Homo sapiens: one gene and its partner. The protein of the gene in region 2 interacts with the protein of the main gene of each other region in a pairwise test. Each region holds a gene or a part of one and is shown on either strand. Other genes may lie near its edges.

What was found.
Region 1: the proteins of NCAM1 (region 2) and GRK2 interact in binary tests that used the Homo sapiens proteins (3 or more experiments, as listed by UniProt).

The regions. Positions count from the first base shown.
Region 1 is NC_000011.10:67,269,328-67,276,704, reverse strand, and holds part of GRK2 (beta-adrenergic receptor kinase 1), read right to left. Parts: intron 1-7,377. UniProt on the Homo sapiens protein: Specifically phosphorylates the agonist-occupied form of the beta-adrenergic and closely related receptors, probably inducing a desensitization of them. Key regulator of LPAR1 signaling.
Region 2 is NC_000011.10:113,230,332-113,237,708, reverse strand, and holds part of NCAM1 (neural cell adhesion molecule 1 isoform 2 precursor), read right to left. Parts: intron 6,514-7,377; coding exon of another isoform or gene 6,436-6,513; intron 6,065-6,435; coding exon 5,914-6,064; intron 5,540-5,913; coding exon 5,355-5,539; intron 4,992-5,354; coding exon 4,895-4,991; intron 4,563-4,894; coding exon 4,392-4,562; intron 2,677-4,391; coding exon 2,545-2,676; intron 1,409-2,544; coding exon of another isoform or gene 1,394-1,408; intron 1-1,393.

The DNA of each region.
Region 1 (7,377 bases), about 46 Mb from region 2:
GAGGAGTGACTGCGGTGGGGACGGGGTTTCTTTTTGGGGTAAGGGTTGCACAACACGGTCAATGTACTAAAAAACACTACATTGTATAATAAAATGATGAATTTTATATGAATTGCATCTCAATTTTTTAAATTGTAAGAAAAGGCCATGCCTTGGTTCGTGTGTCCCTAGTACTTGGATATAAAATGTGACCCCTGCCCTGGGTTGCTTGGTATGGCCATAGGGGAGGGCCTGGCCATTGTGACCCTCAAAACCCAACCCGACATCCCCCACCCTGTTTATCTCACCCCACACTGAGTGCTGTCTGGGAGCGCCACACCAGGCTACACTCCCGGCCTCAAATACCACCTTACTGTCCCCTCCTGCCCTCTCCTGGCCCACCTCAAGCCCAGCCCTGCCGGTCTGTCCCAACAGCCAGCTGAGGCCTGCATCTGGTCCTCACTAGTCTGGGCTCCTGGGGTAACGTGTAGCTGCCATGCTGAGGGCATTGCAAGGCTGGGGGCCTGAAGGGACAACACACCTGAGCCCATGTCACGCTCACATGGCCCTGCAGGTCTATGGGGCCACCAGCAGGCCTCCCGTGAAATGACTGCAGCTGGTGGAGATTTGGATCCGCAAGTCCAGGTTCTCTGTGCTTGCCATGGCCCCTGCCTTTCTGCACCCCGGCCCTGCCTGCCCCTAGGAGCCCAGCCCAGGGCTGGTCGGACTGGCCACCCAGGCTGTGGTCACGAGGACCCGCTGCACATCTACCCCTGAGGCACTGTGTACCTCATGCCAAAGCCACCCCCTGCTCCAAACAGCCCTGCCCAGGGCATGGTTCTGAGCCTGTGATACCAGACAGCGTGTGCAGAAGCCTTGGGAAGGAGAGGAGGCCTCTGGGTCTGGAAAGCCTGTGTGGAGAAGGTGGAACTCCACTGGGTTCCTGGAGTGCAAGTGGGATCTCGGCAGCTGGCGAAGCCAGGGGGGTCGGTAGACGTGGGAACAGGCAGGGGACAGTATGTCCAGGGATGAGCAAGGGGCCAATGGGGCAGGAGAGAGGGCACACAAAGGCCATGGTGAGGCGGAGGGCAGGGCCTTGCAAACCAGGGGGCTTCACAGCCAAGGAGTGGGCAGGAGAGCAGGACTCAGGAGGCTTGGTCCAGGGCGGTGGGTGGCCCGACTCCACTGGAGGCGCCACGCGGAGGAAGCCCAGGCAGAGGCAACACTTGGGCAGGAAGAAGGGGAAGGGGGTGGGTGGGAGAAGGCTCAGGCTGTCGGGGACCGGGAGAAGGGTTATGAGGCCAGCCCCGTGAGGGCTTCCAGGCTTTGGGCCCGAGGGTCTGGAAGAATGGCAGCTTCAGCCAGAAGAGCCGTCTGCGGAGAGCAGCTCCAGACAGTGCGGACCTGGCCTGTGGACCCTGCCTGGCCTCTGACCTCGGCCTCGAGAGGGGGCTCTTATCCGCTTCCACTGGGCACTGTCCTTCCAGGAAGGGCTGCAGTGGACTCCCGGGCCTCGGCCCCTGATCTCACTTGGTTCCAGCCTTCCTCAGGAAAGGCCGAGCGAGATAGCACGAGCACAGCAGGGCTGCCATGAGCACGGTTCCAAGGCCGCGACCCCCTGGCCTGCTCCCCACCCTCAGAGGCTGGGAGGGGCCGCGGCCTCTTCCAAAGTTGTCTCCAGCAGGAAGCAGGGCACTGAAGACAAGGATGGGCCTAGGTGACCCTGAGTTCGCATCCTATGACTGCTTTGGAACAGACCCTGCCTGGATGGGAAGAGGGGGGCCCATGCCCCCCACCGGGGAGTGAGGATGCCCTCTGAGAACTGACAGGAGCTCCGAGGATGGGCCCCGCGTCCACACCAGCACACCCGCCCCTTCGGGCCACACGCCAGCTCATGTCCACCAGCCACCGTCAAGGACATGTTTCCCGGCATGTGGGACTCCCAGGGACACAGGAAACGGTGGACGGAGATTGTGGTGTTTCACACACAGCAAGGGCTTCATAAAAATCTCTTGAATTGAGAAAGACACGGTCCCTGCCCTTGGCACCTGCAGACAGGAGGCCTGGGCCCTGGGCGACCCTCAGGGCACAGGCTGTGCACTGGGAGACTGGAACGTGGAGAAAACCCCAAGGTCAGGGGCCTGCATCTCACCTGGGAGGTGGGCCAGGACATTTTGGTCCACAGAAGGGGATGAAAAAAAGCAAAAAAAAAAAAAAAAAAAAAAAAAAAGGTGCTGGTCAAGCGGAAGGTAGCGACAGGCAGATGCAGATGACAGGCAAAGCAATCCCAGCCTGTAGGGGTCACCCACCAGGAGCCGGGCATTGTCCCAGGAATGGGGGCCACCGGGCTTCAGCAGTAAGCCCCACTGAGCCCCAGACTTGCTTCTTAGGAGCCTGCAAAAATGGTGCCAGCTTGGCGGGACGCGGTGGCTCACGCCTGTAATCCCAGCACTTTGGGAGGCCGAGGCGGGCGAATCATGAGGTCAGGAGTTTAAGACCAGCCTGACCAACATGGTGAAACCCCGTCTCTACTGAAAATACAAAAATTAGCCCAGCATGGTGGCGTGCGCCTGTAGTCCCAGCTACTCAGGAGACTGAGGCAGAAGAATCGCTTGAACCCTGGAGACAGAGGTTGCAGTGAGCCAAAATCGTGCCACTGCACTCCAGCCTGGGTGACAGAGTGAGACTCTGTCTCAAAAAAAAAAAAAAAAAAAAAGGTGCCAGTTTGGCAGAGGGAATGGCCACCTAGGAGCCAGGGAGTAGCCACTGCCACTTTTCAACTGGACACACAAAGTCTCCAAGGGGGAAGCATGCTTGGTTCCCTGCCTGCGACAGCCAGGGGAACCTGCCGGGCAGGCCCTTTCTCCTTCCCAGGGGCTCTGCTGTCAGCCCCGGCCTGGGAACAGCAGGAAGCAGGACCCGGGGCTCTGAGGCCATCTCTCCCCTCAGCAGCCACGCCTGGGCATGGCCACCACATTCTTCCCAGCCCACAGCACTCCACTTTCTTCCTTAAAAAGAAAAAAATGTTTTTTAAATAAAATAAACAACCCCCCTCCCCCCAAGCAAGAAACCAAACACGAGGTCAGGCCTGAGCAGAGTCCTTGAATGGAAGGCCCCCAAAGTGGCAATTTTAGGGTTTCCTGTCTATTCCCATGGGTCTGGCCGCCAAGGGAACTGGCAGGTTGGAAGAACTTGCCACTGGGGGCAGCTCCTGCCAGGGTGGCAAGCACGGGCGAGCACAGGGGTGGGACAGCCTCCTGGACTGGGTCACCTTGTCTCCAACACTGCTCCCTGATACTGGCAGAGTCTGGAGTGGCAGTGAGCCCAGAGCGTGTCCCTGTCCCCCACCCAGGTCAGCAACCCTGAGATCCGGGGGAACGTGGCTCCCAAGATCTACTCTGGAGCATCAGGAGAACCAAGCGGCCTCAACAGTCCCAGATGGAAGGACGCTAAGGTTCCCAACACCTTTGGGCAAGGGCCTCAGAGTTGCCTTTGCTCTGGCCGTTGGACGGGTGCCTGGGTTCCAAGTGGCCCTCACCACCTGGTCACAAACTTGAAATGTCCAGTTTCCCCAGCTGTAAAATGAGGATGTCAATGAGATGCTGAATCGCCACCGTCACACTGGCCATTTACAAAGCCTGGGTGGACACGGCAGAAGGAGGGCTTCTAATATGCCAGGCTGGCCATGCTGCCCGCCGTGCCCCGCCTGCTGGGCCATGGGAGAGAGCCGCCAGAGCCCCATTTCTCAGTGCCCCACGGCTCACCGACAGTCCATGCTAGAATCACACAGTAACTGGTCTTGCTCAAGCCTCTGCTCCACATTTGCCGTGTCCTCGGAGAGGATGGGGCCTTGGAGGATGGGGCCTGTGGCCAGGGCTGAGCCGAGCAGGGTGGGACTCCTCTGCTCACAGACCAGCTTCAGGCACTGCATTGCTCTACTGCGGGCCCAGTGGGTAGAGCCCGTGGCTTGCCCTGCCAAAGTATCAAGGGCTCCTTGGCACAGAGGTACTTGGTGCCCACCCAGCTTTGGGAAGGAGCAGTCAGTCCCACCTTGGCACCCCTGCAGTTACAGCGGCCTGCACCAGCTCCTACTGCTCCCGGAGCAGGCTCAGCCCAAGACAGTGAGCAGCTGCAGCACTGAGCACTGGGTGACAGGGAAGGAGTGGGTGCTGAGGGAGCACTTCCGGTCCCTTCTGGCACCTCATGGTTCAGAAGAAATGCAAAGTCCAGGCCATCCTCTGTGGCCTGGGCTCTCTTAGGTGTCTCCTGCTCGGGGTCAGAGGCTGTAGCTGTGTGGACAGGAGGGGGTGACAAGTCAGAGACAAACACACTCTTGCTGATGGCAAGGAAGCTGGCTGGGCCACGTGCTCCGAGGCCCACAATGAGTTCGTGGCAAAGAAAATGTCCAAAGGCTCCCTGAGAAACGGCCTCCACTAGAGCACCCTCCATCCCCCCCTTGACCTCTGTGGAAGAGCTGGGTGCAGGGCTCAGAGGACCCTGACTTGTGCCCAGCCTCTGGCCTGGCTGCCCTCCCGTCCCTGACCAGGAGCTGTAGGAGACGAGCAGCCCCCTTCCCTGGAACCCAGGATGGGAGGCAGCCTTGGCTGGCAGCTGGCAGCCAGGGGCCATGCTTCCTGTGCCCCTCATGTGACAGTGATGCTAAAGCTTTGCCACGCCAGGACGGTGCAAGCTGGCATGAAGGCTACAGGCCTGGCAGGTCTGGTGCGGCCACTCTGGGAACCGTCCCCTGGGAGATGAGCGAGCATTCACCAACCAGTGCAGCAGGGCCTGTGGCTGTGGCCGAGGTGCTCCCTGTGGCATTTCCAGGAAACCAGACACCAAGGTGCCAGCAGCAGAAGGAAGTCCCCTGGGGCTTCTTAATGTTTCTCAATGACTCTCCCTGGGGCGAACAAGGACGGGGCCACAGATCAAATAGGAAAGGCCAGCCCAAACCGGCAGGTCCAAGGTAAGCCCTGAGCAGGGGAGAGAAAAAGCCAGCTGGCCCCGCACACACAGCCAGGGTCTGCAGCAGCCTGGGCTCCGGAACGTCGTGTCGGCCACAAAGCAGCTCCCTTGCGGGGATGCTCAGGAAGAGGCACTCTGGCGGCCTTGTCAAATGTCACGGCTTCTTCACAAATATGACATGAGCACCCACACCCTGCAATTTACTGCTGACATGGAGACCGTAATCTGCATTACGCTAGAATGCACCAAGAACAAACTTCCAGAATTCCATGCCCTGTGGTTTCCAGGAGGGGGTTATCCCCCATCCCAAACACGAAATGGCTCTAGAGTCAGAAAATTGCCCCCACCTGGGAACAGAGCTGCCAACATGTTAATACCAGAAAACCCACTTCTGCCAGCATAGACGCGTCCTTTTGCAGTAAACAGCAAAGCAGAGAAGGGATATTACTGTTTTAGAAAAAAGCTGCAGTCAAACACCTCATTTTTAGTATCTCAGTTGCAGCAGAGTAGAAATAACGTGAATATAGCTCCATCCAGCAGTGGAAACTGACCCATGGGGAGCCGGCGGGGAGTAGGGAAGGGGCCCAGGAAGAAGGGGCAGGTGTGAGGGAGGCTGTGCATCCTCAAGGGCTACACTGTGCTTTTGGTTCCCACTGTGTGTTCCGAGGCAAGAGCATACCCTGAAAGCAACAGCCAAGCGCGTGGAGCCCAAACCCACCAGCCTGAGCACTCAGTCCCTCTGCCAAGCCCACCTGGGTGCAACCTAGGCACGGGGAGGAAACACTGGCTGCGGAGCGCTCCTGTACCTGACGTCACCGGGAACTTACTACTAGGAATTGATTGTGCATTAATAGGACACCTCATTCTGGGTTAACAGCCCAGGTTCCCCTGCACAGATTCCAACCTGCATTGCTCACACTCCCTTCAAATCCATTTACCCAGGTAACGGCAGGCGGGCGACTTAATGGCAAATAAGTGAAACGCATGCTCTGGAAAGGAAAACAGACGGGAAAGACATCCCAGAGACCCATTCCTGGGGAACGGCGGTGCTTCAAAGGCCCAGAGGGAGTGACTGCAGGAAAGATCATCTTGTTTGCAGGGAAAGGAGTTGGGAGAACGCTGCCACTGAAGTGGAAAGTTCTGGGTAAGGGACAAAGGCTGGAAGCAGCAGGGTTTCAGCTGGTGCTGCAGGAGTGAAGGAAGGAGGGAGGGAGAGAGCTTCCCGCTGCACCCCTTCCCCCACAAATCGAGGGCAGGAAGTTCTGGCTGCGAAGAGTTAACAGGAACGAGGCAGCGGAGGAACAGGGGCAGGGTCTGGGGAGACAGGGAAGCCAGAAAGGGGCAGGAAGGAGGAAACTCTCGGTGGGGGAGGGACCAGGAAACAGCCAAGAAATCGGGAGGCTGCAAGAGGCACCCAGCTCCGACAATCTGCTGCTGGGGCTGCCACTGTCACCGGGGAGGGCAGAGGAACCTCCTGGGAGCGCCCAGGCAGGGCTCCTCAGCTAGGAGCCCAGAGATTAATTACACGAGGCCTCAGTGGTCATATTAAGCAAATGATGATAATTACAAGACTGCTGGCTGCTGGGAAAGGGAGACAGCAGTTCCTTCAGGGCAAGGCCCAGACCACAGACCCTGAGAGTGAAGGGGCAGCCGCCTCGTTTTACAGAGGTGGAAACTGAGGCAGGTCCAGTCGGGCTAAGGGACTCGCCTGGGTCCCATGTGAGCTGGTGGTAGAGGGAGAAGCCAGACCTCCCATCTTCCAGATACACAATGCTGCCTTACGCTACCTCCTTCTACAAGAAGGTCGGGGAAAGGGACTGTTTCCTTGGATTCTATAGGGTGACAGAAGGGGAGGCCCCTGTGCCAACTCAGTGTGGCACTGTGCCTAACCACTCCCATTCCCTAGCCTTTGGAACTCAGAGCTGTGATGCCAGCCCCAGTTCTTGGCCAAGACACATCCCCAGGCACCAGCCATGGAGGGGCTGCCAAGGTGGGCCACCTCAAGGTATGAACAATTCCCAGTGGCAACCTGTCACTGGGACAAGCCACAGCCCCTCTCCCTGACTCTGACCTTGACCTTGTGGGTATGGGGAAGACAGGCTCCTGCATCTGACGGGACCCTGGAGTGGGGCTGCCCCTCGGTGCAGTAGCTTTGCCACGGCAGCTCAGTTCTCCATCCCAGCCAACGGGAAGAGGGCTGAGCCTTGTGAACTGTGACAGCCGATGGCCCCAGACAAGGGGTGCCAGTCAGCCCACACCGCAAAATGTGGACAGAGGCGAGAACAGTGGTGTGCAGGGGTGGGTGGAGGGGATAAAGCACAGCAAAGAAACAGCACTGGCCTGTGTGGTCCAGAAACCCGAGGCCCCATTCCAGCTTTCTTCTGTGACGAGGACACGACTCCTCCCCTCCCTGAGCCTCAATAACTTCAACTG
Region 2 (7,377 bases):
TTAATGTAACTAAGCCAGCATTCATTTACTGATCAAATCCAGACCAGAGGAAACCTGGAGACTCAGTTGAACCACAAGTTAAAGATCAGGGGAAGATCCAGAAGGAAGGTTCCCTCATGCCCAGAGTGGCTCCTCTCGAACTTGCTTAGGGCATAGCTGCAGGCCCAGAGCAGGTACCTGTCAGTCCGGCCTGAAGGCTCCATCCCCCAACTCTGATGCCTTCGAGAGCTGGTTCATCCCGGCACCAACTCTGCTGAGGTAGGACATTTGGCACTTGCTCAAAATCTCAGAATACCTACATGTAGCTACTTAGTTTTTGCTGTTGCTGCAATATTTCTGAATAATGTTAAAAAGATAAGCTTCCTTGGGTACCTTTCAGGAGCTGGGAGCCTTTTTATGAAAAGACTGTACAGCTTCCTGAATACCTTTTTTTCTGTGTCTGCCTGGGTAACACCTCCCTCCGCTATTCTGGTTCAGCCTAGGAAGAACCAAATCTCAGGAGAAGGGAAGTTTAGGGGCATTTCTGCAGGCTAATGGGGTCAAACCACAGTTCATCTCTCTGTTACCCTTGTTCCCTGTGTCCTCTATGTACAGCTTACATGATGAAGGGTGTCCTTCCAGTGGGGAATCTCCCCTTCCCTAGCATGCATGGCAGAAGAGTTCCTACATTAGCTGGTTAGTCTTCCCCAAACGAGGAGATGCACACTGCAAGTAACTACATGCTAAAGAACAGAGCTGACCGGAACTAGAGATTTAACTCTGCAACAGCTACCTGTGGGACATGCCCATGGCTCGGAACCAAAGTTCATGCTACGTTTTGACTATGGCAGCTGCTGCAGGAGCCTCCCTGGCCAGTCCTCCTATTCCCCTCCAGCTACCAAGCTGACAGACAAGAAGCAAGGAAGCAACTGAGCTCAATTCCTTTATCTCCTAAAAGCAAATATGAAAATCCTTTCAGGTTCTTTTTCCTTTCAAGGTGTTTTGAATAGTGGCCTGGTGGGGCTGTGGTCACTTTCCCGGCATCCTGGCTGAAGGTGAGGCGGGGCTATAGCGTGTTATTCAGGGCCCATCTGCAGACTTCCACCATGCTTGGCTCAGCAAACACCATCTTTGCCGTGGGGTAATCATCACACACAAAAATTAATAAATAAGCACAATTTCCAAAGACACAGAAGTTGCATGCTCTAAAACAGGAAGAGTGTTAGCCTCTTGGAGTAACCTACAGACGTTAACAACAGCACAACTAGACTAAGGTCAGTGTGGTTAGGGCCCAGACAATATCATCTACTTCAGCCTCTAGGGGACAAAAAAGGGACCAGAACTAAATTACGAACTAGAACTAGCAGATGTTAACGCTATGGAAACAGGTAATGAGGTATGAAGAGGCACTTACGTGGAGGAGGGCTATCTGCATTTCCCATGGATGGAACACAGACGAAAAGAAAAAACAAGAGACAGACCCAAGAAAAAAAAAATAAGATGTAAAAGAAATGAATAGAATCCGCAGAGCACATGGAGCTGGAAACTCAAATTATCAAATTACTTCAAATCCAGAGAAAGAAGCCACTCCTGTAGAAGGAAGATGAGACAGGCTTTCCTATTTCTGGGAAGAGGTAAGGGCAGTGGGTCCCTTTGCAGGCCCCTGGCTTCAAAAAGAAGGAAGCAAAGGATTCTCCCAGGTGCATTTTAAATCCAGGGGTCAGAGAGCCCAGGGAACTCTGTGAACACTCAGAAATTTAGTTCTACGGTATCTTCTTTAGCTGGGTGGACTCAGGAGCTTCCCAGGGTAGTATCTCTGTCTGCAAAGGGGTATGACAGGAGCAGGGCTTGCCCACAGCCTGGCTGCTGGTGGGAAGGGAGGGCAAAGTGGGATAGGCGTAGTTAAAAGAAAGAGGGAATGGCCGAGGAAAACCTAGAGATACATCCCTGAGTGGAATCAGGGGGAAGCAATTCTCTTGAAAGAGGCCGTGAGGAATGCTCTTGCTATGGGAGGGAGAGGAGCAGAAAAGGCCAAGGCCAGGGCTACCTCTTCCCCTTGGCTTTGCTGGGTTTCTGCTGCTGCTCACATATTCTATAGCAGTTTCCATTTGTCTCTGACTTAATATCTCTGCTGCATCAAAGATCCCGCAATGCATTATGTGAACTGTCACCATCTTTACCCTCTTCCTGCAAGTCACAGGGTGCTTAGGGCTTCTGTGGCCTGTCGAAAAGCAACTTTCCCAGATCCTTTGACAACTCACTCCTGGTTTTCTCCCCACTTCCTTTAATAATGTGTTGGTGCCTTCCCCTTCACTGTTATTCTAACAAGCTGGACCGGCTACTAGGACAGTGTCCCCAACCCCTTGGAGAAAGAGAGAATGAAGGGACTGTGTGTTAGCTGTCACTGAGAACCAGAGAACTAGGAGGTGGGGCCTCCAGGAGCAGAGGGATCTGAAAGACAAAAAGCTGTGGTCTGAACAATGACATGGGCCAGCTCAGGGTTCCCCACTGCCCCCAGGGAGAAGAAGGTGGGCTGGGAAAAGGGGGGCAGCTGGCTTTACTTACGGACTGGCTGCGTCTTGAACTCGGAGGCCGCGCTGATCTCACCCAGCCCTTTGCCATTGAGCGCCGCCAGCCTTACGGCGTACGTTGTTTCGGGCTTCAGGCCCACGATGGTGACGATGCCCTCCATGCTGGCTGTTATAATATGGGAAGGATGACAAAAGAGTCTATTGTTAAAATGGTGCAGCCGCTCTGAAAAACAGTAGGGAGGGTCCTGAAAAAATTAACTGTAGATTTATCATTTGGTCCAGCAATTCTATTTCTGGGCATATGCATAGAATTGAAAGTCGGGACCAAACAGATACAGATACCTGGCTGTCCATGTTCACAGCAGTATCATTCACAATAGCCGAAAGGCAGACCCAAATGACAGATACAGATGGCAGACCAAACAGATACAGATACCTGGGCTACCCATGTTCACAGCAGCATCATTCACAATAGCCGAAAGGCAACCCAAATGACCACTGACTGATGAATGGATACATGAAATGTGGCATAGACATACAATGGAATGTTATTCCACCTTAAACAGGAAGGAAATTCTGACACATGCTACAACATGGATGAACCTTGAAGATATTATGCTAAGTGAAATAAAATAAGCTAGCCACAAAAGGACAAATGCCATATGAGTCCACTTATGTGAGGTACTTAGAATAGCCAACTACATAGAGACAGAAAGCATGGTGGTTGCCAGGGGCTGGGAGGAGGTAGTGAATGAAGAGCTAGTGTTTAATGGGTACAGAGTTTCAGTTTGGGATGATAAAAAGTTCTGGAGATGGATGGTGGTGATGGTTACAACTTAATGCCACTGAATTTTACACTTAAAAATGATGGAACGTAAAATGTATGTTATGTATATTTTATAATAAAAATAACTAGAATTGATCTTTAAAAAAAAAAAAAAGTCGGGTGGACAGATAGTGACATGAGATCAACCTGCCACAAAATTGGTATGAGATTTCAGAGGGAAGTTAGGAAGGCAAAGTGATTGCTTTCTTCTGGCTCCAATCCTGATTACCCAGCAGCTCCTCTCGGCCCCCTGGCTCCCCCGAGAAGCTGAAGAAGTGATGGAAACTTTCTGGCAGAACTAATTCTGAGTGAAACTGCACTGGACTATGTCTCTGAATGGCTGTGATACTGATATCCCAGCCTACTTCCAATTCCACTCGAATTACCACATACGAGACCAGGATTAAAAATTTGTACAGAAACAAAACATACTTCACTGAGTTATTCCAATTAAACCCAAAAAGGGGAGTCCAACATAAGCACACATTATCCTCAGATGATCTGGGCTCAGAATCTTCACACTGCAGTAATCCAAGGGTCAGTCTTTTAATCTTTAGCTTGGAAAGCTAGCACAGGACTGATTTAAGGGCAGACTTGTCCTGCTGGCTGTGCTTATTTGGTTACTATCACAATTACAAGACAGCCAGTCCCTGAGTACAGATATCCAAGCAGGACTGGCCGGGTGTCGGCAGAGAACCTGCAGCACAGGTAACTCAAACGTGCAGAGTAGGATGGATTAGACTCATCTGGCCATGCTCAGAACCTATGGGCTGGACTCATCTGGCTGCGCTCAGAACCTACACAAGGTTCCTGCCTGGAATGTGGTACAGATGCCTTCATCCATACTGGAAGGGTCATGAGAACCAGGCTCTGAAGCACAGAGCATGGGTTGGGGTGGCAATAGGGGCAACAACTCTACAGGCAGATATGACTTTGACCTAATTCTGGAGGTGCAGTTCCTGATTCTGTAGGAACATGCCCAGGATGGCAGGTGGGGACATCTGAGTACTGAGGCACTCATGATCCCAATGGAAACACCAACTCGCCCAACTCACCTTCCTTGGCATCATACCACTTGGAATGCCATACTTCTTCACCAACTGCTCTCCACTCAGCTTTGTATTTGAGGATGGGCACCCCACCTGTGGCCTCTGGTTCATCAAACTGCACCTGGGCTGTGCTGGAGTATGGCTCCACCTGGTCGATGGATGGTGAAGAGGGGGTGTCTGTGGGGAAGACACATATGGAGACTCAGGTGAGCCCAGTTTGGCCCAAGACCATTAACTCTCAGTCACAAGGCACATCTCTGTCATTTCTGCTCACTCTTGGGAATCCTGTCACTGTATCCTGTCCTCCTGGCCCATCTCACCAGATGCTTCTCCCCCAACATGCCCCATGCGCTGATCCAATGGCTCCCAGCTTCCCAACTCTCTGGCTTTGCTGACCCTGGCCCTTTCTTCTTCCCAATATCCTGGAATCACTCAAGTACACAAATTGGGCTGGCAGGGTTAGGTGGGGGGTTGTGGCAGCTGCTCTCAGGTGAGTAAGGGACACTCACCTGCTTGAACAAGGATGAATTCCAAGGACTCCTGCCCAATGCGGTTCACTGCAGTACAGTTGTAGTTCCCAAAATCATTCTCAGAGTCTGGGGTCACCTTTAGAAGGAAGAAGCTATTGGGTTACAAGTGTCCTATGGGATGGTCACAGACTCAGATCTTTATTTACTGAATTAAGTTAGTAAAAAACAGAACTAGTAAAGTATAAATCATTAGCTCCAGCCCAGCCTTAAACAAGAGAAAAGAATAGCAGAGGGGCTCATGGGAGAGGCACATTCAGGGAGGGGACTGGTAGAGTGGGCGAAGGGGAGCTGAAAAGAGGCTCAGTGTCTTCTCTAGCCCATGCCTTCCCTGCTCAGGATGTGCCAGAGAAGCAGGAGAGAGGACTTGAGCTGCATTTTGGAGCCCACCTAGAGTCAAACTGTGCTTTCTCTGCTCTGTCCCACCCCCATCCTGACTCACCTCCAGATAGCTGGCAGAGGGGGTGTTGTAGATCTTGATATTGCTGTAATTGGAGCTTGGCAGCAGCTGGCCATCCCGAAACCATGAGATCGTGGCACTGGGATAGGCAAATACCTCGCAGGTGATGTTCACCTGGTTCCCCTCCCAAGTGTACACAGCCACAGGGCCCTGTAGCTTTGGGGCATCTGCAATAAATAACAATGACTGTCAGGATGACTGCCATGATTATGAAGCCCCCATATCCTGTCTCCTGGCACTGGGAAGGCAGGTGTGCTCCAAAGCAGAGCCAGCGCCTGGTATAGTAGAGGTCAGGGCCATTCTAGAATTCCTGTGCACAGCATGGGAAGAAGACTCAAGGGCACAGCAGGCTTGTAAGAAGCCTGGAGATGGTGTGTAGGGGGTGGCTTGGGAACAGAGCTCTGAAATAGCCCAGGGTCAGCTGCAGGGAACGTAAGCAGAACACACAGGGTGCACATAGGTCCTTGCTGATGTTTTCCTCTCTCATCCTGACCCTGCCTTGCCCCTCCCTCCCCCAGGTCCTTCCCCATTTATTCCTTACATTGCACTTCAAGGTACATGGACTGGGAGTCCTGGCCGATGGTGTTGCTGGCGGTGCAGATGTACTCTCCGGCATCAGTGTACTGGATGCTCTTCAGGGTCAGCGACGACACACGGGCATGGCTACGCACCACCATGTGCCCATCCAGAGTCTGCCGGGGGTGGGGGGGAAGGGAGCATGTCAGAGCCCAAGGCAGGGTGAAGGGCAACAGTGCTATGGCAGGATGGGGGCTGGGAGACTAGGCCATCACTTGTCTGTGACCCGTCTCACTTCCTCTCTCCTCTCTGTGTCAATGGCTTTCTTACTTTAGGTACCATCTAATGGGGGAGGCACTGGGAAGCAGCATGAGAACCTGGGAGTATCCGAAACAGAAAATGAGACTCAGTTATGTCAGGCAGCCTGATCTAAGTACCAAGATTGGTTTGGGGCTAGGTCCCCCAAGATGACTTTGTTTGGGATGTCTAAAATGGAAGCAAAGCCTCCGGCCAGCAGATATTGCAGCAGCAGCAGCAGCAGCCCTACCTCATGAGATCCTGGGAAACCTGCACTGCCAGCCTGTCCTTTCTGTCTGCCCACTTGCCAGTTCCATGGTGCATGTACCTGTGGCAGGACATTCCAAGTGCCCAACATAAGAAATTATTAAAGAAATCCTTATTTCTGCAGATGCCTCTTTCCTGGATGTTTAAAAGTGAAATAATCACATGTAAAAACAAGCCAAACAACTCAAAGATCAGGAGCCACTGCACTGGAAGTGAGAGTAACTGGGTTCTCTCTCCAGGGACAATGGCACAGAGAGTCCTAGGCAGGTCTGGGATCCTTGACACCTTGGCCACCACCATTTTATAGTCCTTGATACAGCAATGGGCTTCCTAAATCTCTGGAATTATAATGATTGGTCAAAAAGAGAATAAGCACATAGTCCTTAGGCAATGGGTACTGGAGTATTTCCAAGGGGATTTCCCCTTGACATTCTAAGTAAAATGGTTGCTGGCCCAGGAAGAGTCTAGGCATGTGGCTTAACTTCAGATCCTCAAGAAAGTTAGTGATCTGGAGAAAGGGTCTTGTTCTGGGTAGGCTGGGCCCTCTTGTCTCCAGTATATGATGTTCTGTAGGGATGGACAGGAGGTTATATTCTGCACCTGGCATCTGCCATCCCATGCGTTGGGTCTTTAAAGAATGACAGAACAATTGGCTTCAGGTTCTTTGGATATGCTGGTTTGGGGCCCTGAAGCCCAGAATTGCAATGTCATACAGCAGCCAGATTAGGAAGCTCACAAGCAAGGCATCACTAGCCTTGTTCAGCAGTCTCAGCAGATTTACCAATGAAAAGTCCCTTGGACCATCACTGACAGATCTAGCCTATTCCGGTCATCTGAGCCCCAATGCATTTCATGTCTGGAAGCTAAAAAACAACTCTAGCAAGAAGACAGAAGAGTCAAGCAAAGTCATGGCTGCCCATTTCTG